Regions from separate parts of the Homo sapiens genome. Here region 1 is linked to region 2. Evidence: fine-mapped expression QTL. A gene starts in region 2. The other region holds a variant in brackets. All regions are shown on one strand. Distances are from middle to middle.

Evidence for each region. PIP is the estimated chance that this variant, and not a neighbour inherited with it, causes the effect. A credible set is the group of variants that fine-mapping cannot tell apart.
Region 1: its variant is the best candidate, but not a certain one, in a credible set for the expression of LINC02893 in unexposed skin (GTEx, PIP 0.53).

What each region holds. Positions count from the first base shown.
Region 1 is chr9:86,988,684-86,993,925 of GRCh38, reverse strand. It overlaps GAS1RR (GAS1 adjacent regulatory RNA), which reads right to left. Exons shown (of 7, transcript NR_049794.1): 5 at 5,020-5,124. Among named protein-coding and RNA genes, the nearest start is that of GAS1RR, 43 kb to the right of the region's middle. The variant A/G (reference allele first, on the strand shown) is at 2,130.
Region 2 is chr9:87,040,056-87,045,297 of GRCh38, reverse strand. It overlaps LINC02893 (long intergenic non-protein coding RNA 2893), which reads left to right and starts at 3,172. Exons shown (of 2, transcript NR_027471.1): 1 at 3,172-3,427.

The sequences.
Region 1 (5,242 bases), 51 kb after region 2:
TTGTAAATAATACCATAATGAATATGAGTGTGCAGACAGCTCTTGGAGAATTTGGTTTCAGTTTTGCAGGGTATATACCAAGAAGAGGGATTGCTGGATCATCTGGTAGTTCTTTTTTTAAGTTTTTGAGGAACTGCTCTGTTTTCCACTGTGGCTATATCAATTTATAGTTCCAGAAAAAGGTGTACAAGAGTTTCCTTTTCCCTATTTTTTTGATAATAGCCATCCAAAAGGTGTGAGGTATTACTTCATTGTGGTTTTAATTTGCATTTCCCTTATAATTAATAATATTGAGTACTTTTTTATATATTTGTTTAAGATTATTTATGTTTTTTTACAAAGTGTCTATTTGGGTCTTCTGCCCATTTTAAAAGTCAGATTGTTTTTCTGCTATTGAGTTGTAGAACTAACTCATATATTTTAAATATTAACTTTTAATCAGATGTATGATTTGCAAATATTTTCTCCCATTCCACAGGTTGCCTCTTCATTCTGTTGTTTCCTTTGCTGTGCAGCAGCTTTTTAGGTTGATGTAGTCCCATTTATTTATTTTTGCTTTTGTTGCCTGTGCTTTTGGTGTCATATTCAGGAAATTATTACTAAGGTCAATATGAAGAATCTAGAAATTTGTATTTATTTAACTTTTGAACAAAGTTAATGTGTTACATATTCAAAAAATAAATAAAAACCATGAAAATTTCTATTTTAAAACATGCTATTTAAAAAGGTAATGCCAGAAGAAAAGATAATACTTTAAAGTGACTTCTGAAGAGAATAAATACAAGTAATATATGAGAATCTGCCATTTTTTTCAAAAGCTTTTAGCTTTTGACTTGTAAAACTGTGCATATGTGTTTTTACATCAAAAACACAAAATTAAAAACTTCTCCAAGAAATTGAAGAAAAAAGATTATAGAGTTAGTGAGAAAGAGAGCTATATATATTACCAAAAGGAGAAAACAAAACAGAGAGTGAGAAAGTAATCAAAGTTATAATAGAAAAAAAATGTATTGAACTAAAAGCAGGGGTGTCCAATCTTTTGGCTTCCCTGGACCATACTGGAAGAAGAATTGTCTTGGGCCATACATAAAATACACTAATACTAATGATAGCTGATAAACTAAAAAAAAAAAAAAGGGCCAAAAAATCATTTATGTTGGGCTGCATTTGAAGCTGTCCTGTGGGCTGCAGGTTGGACAAATTTGAACTAAAGCATTTGTGTTGTTAAAGCAAATAGGCTCACTGAATATGAGGCAAAATAAATAAAGACAGACATGGAGACAAATCCTTTGGAAACATATTTTTGAGAGGATATAGCAAAAGATTTCATACTGGCAAAAGATTCTCCTCTACAATACTAAATCGTAGCTATTGCTTTTTCCTGTTTCCATCTTCAGCACCAGAATATCTTTCTTTTTTTTTTTGAATGGAGTCTCGTTCTGTCTCCCAGGCTGAGTGCAGTGGCGCGTTCTCACCTCACTGCAACCTCTGTCTCCTTGGTTCAGGCAATTCTCCTGCTTTAGCCTCCCGTGTAGCTGGGACTAAAGGCATGTGCCACCACACCCAGCTAATTATTTTGTATTTTTAGTAGAGACGGAGTTTCACCATGTTGCTCAGGCTCATCTTGAACTCTTGACCTCAAATGATCTGCCCGCCTCAGCCTCCCAAAGTGCTGGGATTACAGGCTTGAGCCACCGCACCCGGCCAGCACCAGCAATATCTTAATGGCAAGCATTTATGGTTGCTAAGATCCAGGCACAGTGCTTAGGGTTTGCATGTGATTTTTCCTTGAATCTTCAGGACCATGCCATGAGATGGGAATTTAAGTATCAGAAATGCTAAATAACTTACTCAAGGACGCAAAGCCAAGAGCTGAACTGATGCATTCTGACTAGATGATCAATATTCCTTATCACTGAACTCTATAGGAATAAAAAAATAAGGTTGTAGTTTACAACCCCAACTGCAAATTAGAATCTCCTAGAAAGATTTTTAAAATCTTGCTTCACTAATGGTGAGTCTGGCTTAACTTGTCTGAGGAAAGAGTGTGGATATTAAATTTATCGAATAACATTTAAATTCTAGTGTGAAGCCAAATTTGACAGCCACTACATCAGAGCAAAACCTAG[A/G]GAGTTTTGAGGATAAAAAATGTGCTCTAAGCAGGATTAAAGTAAGGTGAATGAAGTCCTGAGGTGCAAAATTTTAATGAACACCCAAAAATTCAGTAATCAGGAGAAACAATATTTACTGCAATTTTTAAAAATAAGAATTAAATGAAATGTAATGAATTATAATTCATGCTGGATGAAATACTAAAATTTTAAATTGGGGAGATCTGATGTTGCACCTGTATGACTCACCCCACCCTAATCTTGCCTTGTCAAACTCTATTTCAAATTTTTATATTTTGTCTATCATAGATTTTAGCATAATTTTTATTTTTTAAAATACTTCATTAAAGTATTCTGTCTCTTGATATTTTAGGTTTGTGTTTGTTTGATTTTGGCTTTCTGACATGAAGAATAGGGAAAAGTACATCCACTCCATCTTTCTGGGTGTCCTAAGAGTTTTACATCTAATGAAACAGTCAAGTGAAAGCAAGTGAAAGTCATCCTCAGAAATTAAAGTCTTCAAGTAGAGTTTCACATATATACTCTTCTTTCAAACATTGCTCAAAGGGCCAAGCATGGTGACTCACACCTGTAATCTAATCTCAGCACTTTGGGAGGCCAACATGAGTGGATCACTTGAGGCCAGGAGTTCGAGACCAGCCTGGCCAACACAGCGAAACCCCATCTCTACTAAAAATAAAAATTAGCCGGTTATGGTTGTGCGTGCCTATAATACCAACTACTTGGGAGACTGAGGCAGGAGAATCGGTTGAACCGGGAAGGCAGAAGTTTCAGTGAGCCAAGATCGTGCCATTGCACTCCAGCCTGGGTAACAGAGTGAGACTCTGTCTCAAAGAAACAAAACAAAACAAAAGAAACAAAAAAAATTGTTCAAAGAAATACTATAACATATTCAAGAATGAGGAAGGCGTAGTATTTTCATCAAAGATGAACAATGAAATCAGAAAACTACAAATAAGTCTAAATAATTATTGTTAATGTGAATATTAAGCATAATGCAAATATCAACAATAAGTCTTAAAATAGAAGACATATACTATAAAAAAATACTGTGTATCTAAAATTCTAATATATAAAAAATTGAAAAGAAATATAGAAAAAGCAGAAATAAAAATATATTAAATGTATTACCTTTCAGAGAGGAAATGGAGCGATTCTACTTTGTTCTTTGCAATTTGCTTTTTTCAAGTGAAACTCACGTAATGTAAAATTAGCCATCTTACAGTGAACAATTCAGTGGCATTTAGTACATTGAGAATATTGTGCAACCACCACTTCTATCTAATTCTAAAACATTTCATCACCCCAAAAGGAAACCCTATACCCATTAAGCAATTGTCCTATTCTCCTTTCTCCCAGCCCTTGGTAACCATCAATCTGAATTCTATCTCTATGGATTTACTCATTCTGAACATTTCATGTAAATGGAATTATGCCATACTTTTGTGTCTGGCTTCCTTTACTTAGCAGAATGTTTTCAAGGTTTTTCATGTTGTAGCACACATCGGTAAAACATTATTTTTATGATTGAATAAAATTCCATTGTATGCATAACGACATTTTATTCATCCATTCATTGATGGACAATTGGGCTGTTTTTACCCTTTGAGTATTGTTAATAGTGCTGCTATGATCATGTGTGTACATGTATTTCTTTGAGTCTCCATTTTCCAATTCTTAGAATAAAACATAGGAATCTTGGATTTAACAATGATTCTTAGATGTGATACTAAAAGCACAAGCAAAAAAGAAGATGAATAAATGGACTTAATAAAAAATAAAAACTTTTGTGCATCAAAGGACATTGTCAAGAAAGTGAAAAGACAACCCACAGAATGGGAGAAAATATTTGCAAATTATGATTTGATAAGGGTCTAGTATCCAAAATACATACAGAACTCTTACAATTCAACAGCAAAAAAAAAAAACACCCAATTTTTTAAATGGCAAATGACTTGAAGAAACACTTCTTCAAATAAGCTATACAAGCAGCCAACAAGCACTTGAAAAGATGCTCAACATCATTAGTCATTAAGGAAATACAAATCAAAACCACAATGAGGTACCCCTTCACACCCACTAGGATAGCTATTAACCAAAAAGGAAAATAACAAGTGTTGGTGAAGATGTGGAGAAACTAGAGTCCTCATATATTGCTGGTTGGAATAGAGAATGGTTCAGGCACTTTGGGACAGTCTGGCAGTTCTCAAAAGAAATAAACATATTAAGTTTGTATCCTAGCAACATCCCCTTTCAAGGTACCAGTTTCTGCAGTAGGTATGGCCAGCTAAGTTGCAATGAGAAAGGGTTGTTGTGCTAATACAGATGAAAGAGCATGGTGGCTTAGACTAGAGTTTTAGCAATAGAAATGACAGGACATGGTCAGATTCCAGATGGAACTGAGACACAGAATCAACAGGACAGACTGATACATGACATATGGGGGGACTGGGAAAATTGGTAAATAACCTTCCAGGTTTTTGGTCTGCATAACTGGGTGAGTTGGTGAGGGGTAGGGGGGGACACATTTTCTGAAATAGGAACATTTGACATTTGACCTGAATGAAATACAAAAGACGAAAAGCAAGTATTTCTGGGAAGAATGTAGCAAAAAGAAGAAACAGTAAGTGCAGAGACTTGAGGAATGAAATGAGCTTGGCTAATTTGTGGAACGAAAAGAAGGTTAATGTGGCTATGCTGAGAGTTGGGGGTTTTCTTGCCACTGAAAAAAGATCACTTCAGTTTGCCCTCTTTAAAATGATAAGAATTACTGATCGTTTTAATTAAGTACAGTACTAATTACTGTACATGGTATACCCAAAACAGGATGAGATATTATCAACTTTAAAACTTGCTGAAATTGATTTGTAATTTTAAAAAAACATACCTTTAGTTATGAGGTAGATGATTTTAAATTATTTTCTGAAAAGTTCAACAGTTCTAAATCATTTTGTGTACATTTTTTCGTGTCTTCAAACAAGGCAGGCAAACACTGTTTTTAAAAAACAAGTATACACTTAAAAAATAGGTATACACTTTCAAAAAGTTCAAAGAAGTATTCAAGGCCTTATCTACTAGAAACAGAATCTTCACAAAGTAATATTATTCAA
Region 2 (5,242 bases):
TCAGCTGTGAATCCATCTGGTCCTGGACTCTTTTTGGTTGGTAAGCTATTGATTATTGCCACAATTTCAGATCCTGTTATTGGTCTATTCAGAGATTCAACTTCTTTCTGGTTTAGTCTTGGGAGAGTGTATGTGTCGAGGAATTTATCCATTTCTTCTAGATTTTCTAGTTTATTTGCGTAGAGGTGCTTGTAGTATTCTCTGATGGTAGTTTGTATTTCTGTGGGATCGGTGGTGATATCCCCTTTATCATTTTTTATTGCGTCTATTTGATTCTTCTCTCTTTTTTTCTTTATTAGTCTTGCTAGCGGTGTATCTATTTTGTTGATCCTTTCAAAAAACCAGCTCCTGGATTCATTAATTTTTTGAAGGGTTTTTTGTATCTCTATTTCCTTCAGTTCTGCTCTGATTTTAGTTATTTCTTGCCTTCTGCTAGCTTTTGAATGTGTTTGCTCTTGCTTTTCTAGTTCTTTTAATTGTGACGTTAGGGTGTCAATTTTGGATCTTTCCTGCTTTCTCTTGTGGGCATTTAGTGCTATAAATTTCCCTCTACACACTGCTTTGAATGTGTCCCAGAGATTCTGGTATGTTGTGTCTTTGTTCTCATTGGTTTCAAAGAACATATTTATTTCTGCCTTCATTTCGTTATGTACCCAGTAGTCATTCAGGAGCAGGTTGTTCAGTTTCCATGTAGTTGAGCAGTTTTGAGTGAGATTCTTAATCCTGAGTTCTAGTTTGATTGCACTGTGGTCTGAGAGATAGTTTGTTATAATTTCTGTTCTTTTACATTTGCTGAGGAGAGCTTTACTTCCAAGTATGTGGTCAATTTTGGAATAGGTGCGGTGTGGTGCTGAAAAAAATGTATATTCTGTTGATTTGGGGTGGAGAGTTCTGTAGATGTCTATTAGGACAGCTTGGTGCAGGGCTGAGTGCAATTCCTGGGTATCCTTGTTGACTTTCTGTCTCGTTGATCTGTCTAATGTTGACAGTGGGGTGTTAAAGTCTCCCATTATTAATGTGTGGGAGTCTAAGTCTCTTTGTAGGTCACTCAGGACTTGCTTTATGAATCTGGGTGCTCCTGTGTTGGGTGCATATATATTTAGTATAGTTAGCTCTTCTTGTTGAATTGATCCCTTTACCATTATGTAATGGCCTTCTTTGTCTCTTTTGATCTTTGTTGGTTTAAAGTCTGTTTTATCAGAGACTAGGATTGCAACCCCTGCCTTTTTTTGTTTTCCATTTGCTTGGTAGATTTTCCTCCACCCTTTTATTTTGAGCCTATGTGTGTCTCTGCACGTGAGATGGGTTTCCTGAATACAGCACACTGATGGGTTTTGACTCTTTATCCAATTTGCCAGTCTGTGTCTTTTAATTGGAGCATTTAGTCCATTTACATTTAAAGTTAATATTGTTATGTGTGAATTTGATTCTGTCATTATGATGTTAGCTGGTTATTTTGCTCGTTAGTTGATGCAGTTTCTTCCTAGTCTCGATGGTCTTTACATTTTGGCATGATTTTGCAGCAGCTGGTACCGGTTGTTCCTTTCCATGTTTAGCGCTTCCTTCAGGAGCTCTTTTAGGGCAGGCCTGGTGGTGACAAAATCTCTCAGCATTTGCTTGTCTGTAAAGTATTTTATTTCTCCTTCTCTTATGAAGCTTAGTTTGGCTGGATATGAAATTCTGGGTTGAAAATTGTTTTCTTTAAGAATGTTGAATATCGGCCCCCACTCTCTTCTGGCTTGTAGGGTTTCTGGCGAAAGATCCGCTGTTAGTCTGATGGGCTTCCCTTTGAGGGTAACCCGACCTTTCTCTCTGGCTGCCCTTAACATTTTTTCCTTCATTTCAACTTTGGTGAATCTGACAATTATGTGTCTTGGAGTTGCTCTTCTAGAGGAGTATCTTTGTGGCGTTCTCTGTATTTCCTGAATCTGAACGTTGGCCTGCCTTGCTAGATTGGGGAAGTTCTCCTGGATAATATCCTGCAGAGTGTTTTCCAACTTGGTTCCATTCTCCCCATCACTTTCAGGTACACCAATCAGACGTAGATTTGGTCTTTTCACATAGTCCCATATTTCTTGGAGGCTTTGCTCATTTCTTTTCATTCTTTTTTCTCTAAACTTCCCTTCTTGCTTCATTTCATTCATTTCATCTCCCATCGCTGATACCCTTTCTTCCAGTTGATCGTATCGGCTCCTGAGGCTTCTGCATTCTTCACGTAGTTCTCGAGCCTTGGTTTTCAGCTCCATCAGCTCCTTTAAGCACTTCTCTGTATTGGTTATTCTAGTTATACATTCTTCTAAATTTTTTTCAAAGTTTTCAACTTCTTTGCCTTTGGTTTGAATGTCCTCCCGTAGCTCAGAGTAATTTGATCGTCTGAAGCCTTCTTCTCTCAGCTCGTCAAAGTCATTCTCCGTCCAGCTTTGTTCCATTGCTGGTGAGGAACTGCGTTCCTTTGGAGGAGGAGAGGTGCTCTGCTTTTTAGAGTTTCCAGTTTTTCTGTTCTGTTTTTTCCCCATCTTTGTGGTTTTATCTACTTTTGGTCTTTGATGATGGTGATGTACAGATGGGTTTTTGGTGTGGATGTCTTTTCTGTTTGTTAGTTTTCCTTCTAACAGACAGTACCCTCAGCTGCGGGTCTGTGGGAGTACCCTGCCATGTGAGGTGTCAGTGTGCCCCTGTTGGGGGGTGCCTCCCAGTTAGGCTGCTCGGGGGTCAGGGGTCAGGCACCCACTTGAGGAGGCAGTCTGCCCCTTCTCAGATCTCCAGCTGCGTGCTGGGAGGACCACTGCTCTCTTCAAAGCTGTCAGACAGGGACATTTAAGTCTGCAGAGGTTACTGCTGTCTTTTTGTTTGTCTGTGCCCTGCCCCCAGAGGTGGAGCCTACAGAGGCAGGCAGGCCTCCTTGAGCTGTGGTGGGCTCCACCCAGTTCGAGCTTCCCGGCTGCTTTGTTTACCTAAGCAAGCCTGGGCAATGGCGGGCGCCCCTCCCCCAGCCTCGCTGCTGTCTTGCAGTTTGATCTCAGACTGCTGTGCTAGCAATCAGCGAGACTCCGTGGTTGTAGGACCCTCCGAGCCAGGTGCCGGATATAATCTCGTGGTGCGCCGTTTTTTAAGCCAGTCGGAAAAGCGCAGTATTCGGGTGGGAGTGGCCTGATTTTCCAGGTGTTGTCTGTCACCCCTTTCTCTGACTAGGAAAGGGAACTCCCTGACCCCTTGCTCTTCCCGAGTGAGGCAATGCCTCGCCCTGCTTCAGCTCGCGCACGGTGCGCGCACCCACTGACCTGCGCCCACTGTCTGGCACTCCCTAGTGAGATGAACCCGGTACCTCAGATGGAAATGCAGAAATCACCCGTCTTCTGCGTCGCTCACGCTGGGAGCTGTAGACCGGAGCTTATTCGGCCATCTTGGCTCCTCCGTTCCCTCTATGGTAATTCTTTTCTTTCTTCCTGTTGCGTTTCTCTGGCTACCTTTAATATTTCCTTTTTATCTTTGATTTTCAGCAGTTTGATCCTGAAGTATACTTGCACTTCGTATCCTTTTTCTTTTTCCTCTTCCTTTCCTCTTCGTTTCTTCGTCTTTCATGTTTATAAAGTTCTTTTTTCCTGGGTTTGTTTCAGTTTGAATAATTTCTCTCAAACTATTTTCAAATTTACTGATGTTTGCCCTCTTGGCAACGTACAGTCTGTGCATGGGCCCTAGAAAAAAACTTTTTTTACAAAAAACTCTGATTTGTTTTTTAATTTCTAGTGTCTCAATTGAGACTGTAAAAAATGCTATTCATCTCTGCTGAAATACCTCATTTGTTTAATTAATGTTTCATTCAACCCTTTAAAATTATGCTCTCTTCCCTGATGGTAGAATGCTGTGGTTTTTGTTGTTGTTATTGTTTTCATCATTTTTTAAATCTTTTTCCACTCTAAACTAAACTTTGTAAGGACAAGGACTTGGTGTAATTCGCTGTCATATTCCAAATACTCATTACTGTAGTAATGCTTTAACAAATTGTAATTGAGTGAACAAACGAACACACTGCCATGTTTACTGCCATGGTTTAAAGTGTTGCCACTTCCTGATAAAATGTACATTAGTATCTGTTTCTGTCCTATATCTCAAAAAAATTACTAAACATAACGATTTATGCCTAAATAAGATAATCTAGGCTAAAACATTCAGACTCTAAAAATCGAAAGTGAATGCGTTAAATATGAGCTAGGAGCAGTAATGAATGATCAAAATGTTTTAGAAAAGCATAAATACCAAAGTTCCCTACTGCAATGAACAACCATAGTTTCTGGTCATTAGTTTTAAAGACTGGAATTCATTGGAAGGCAACTGATAGCTCATAGAACTGATAGGAAACTAGCAAATAGAAATTAAGGAATAGGTGAGAATGAGGCTGCTCTGGGAGTCCAAGGACCCAATCACTTTGTAAGAGGCCTGGTCAGACCAAGACACTGCTATTGACATAAGACTCCTGCATAAATAGACTCCACCACTGACTCCCTGGAAGCCACTGTCCCTAGCCGCTGATTGTTTTGGCTCATCCCTTTTGGTCTTCAGCAGTGGTAGGCAAAGTATAACAGCCACTATTGGTGGCCTGCCACTATTCCCTCCTCTCATTTCACTGCAAGCCTCCACACTTTCTATTGTCAGCACCTGCACCCCTTAGCCTGAGGGAGCCCTCAACCAAGGGTATTTGTATTAGTCAGGGCTATCCAGAGAAGCCAAACCAAAAGGCTGTGTGTGTGTGTGTGTGTGTGTGTATGTGAAGACAGAGACAGACAGAGAGAAGAGATATTTTAGTAAGTTGGTTCACAGGATTTCACAAATCCGAAATCTGTGGGGCAGGCTGGAGATCCAGGATAGAGCTGACATTTCAGCTTGAGCCTGGAAGCAGTCTGCAGGCAGTCAATTTCTCTTAAGTCCTTAGCAACTCACTGGGTAAAGCCCAGTGACATTATGGAGGGTAATCTGCTGTATTCAAAATCTAGTGATTTAAACATTAGTCATATCTAAAAATATACCTGCACAGCAATATCTAGACTGGTGTTTAACCAAACATGTGGGCACCATAGTCTAGTCAAGTTGACATGTAACATTAACCATCACAGTGTTAATGTTTAAGTTCCCCAGCTTCCTCATCCTTCTGGTGTGGAAACCCTGAGAGTTGTGTTATAGGCTGTTTCCCAGAGTTTCTCATAAGGATTAAGCTCCTGTTGCCTACAGTGATGACTCGCTTGAT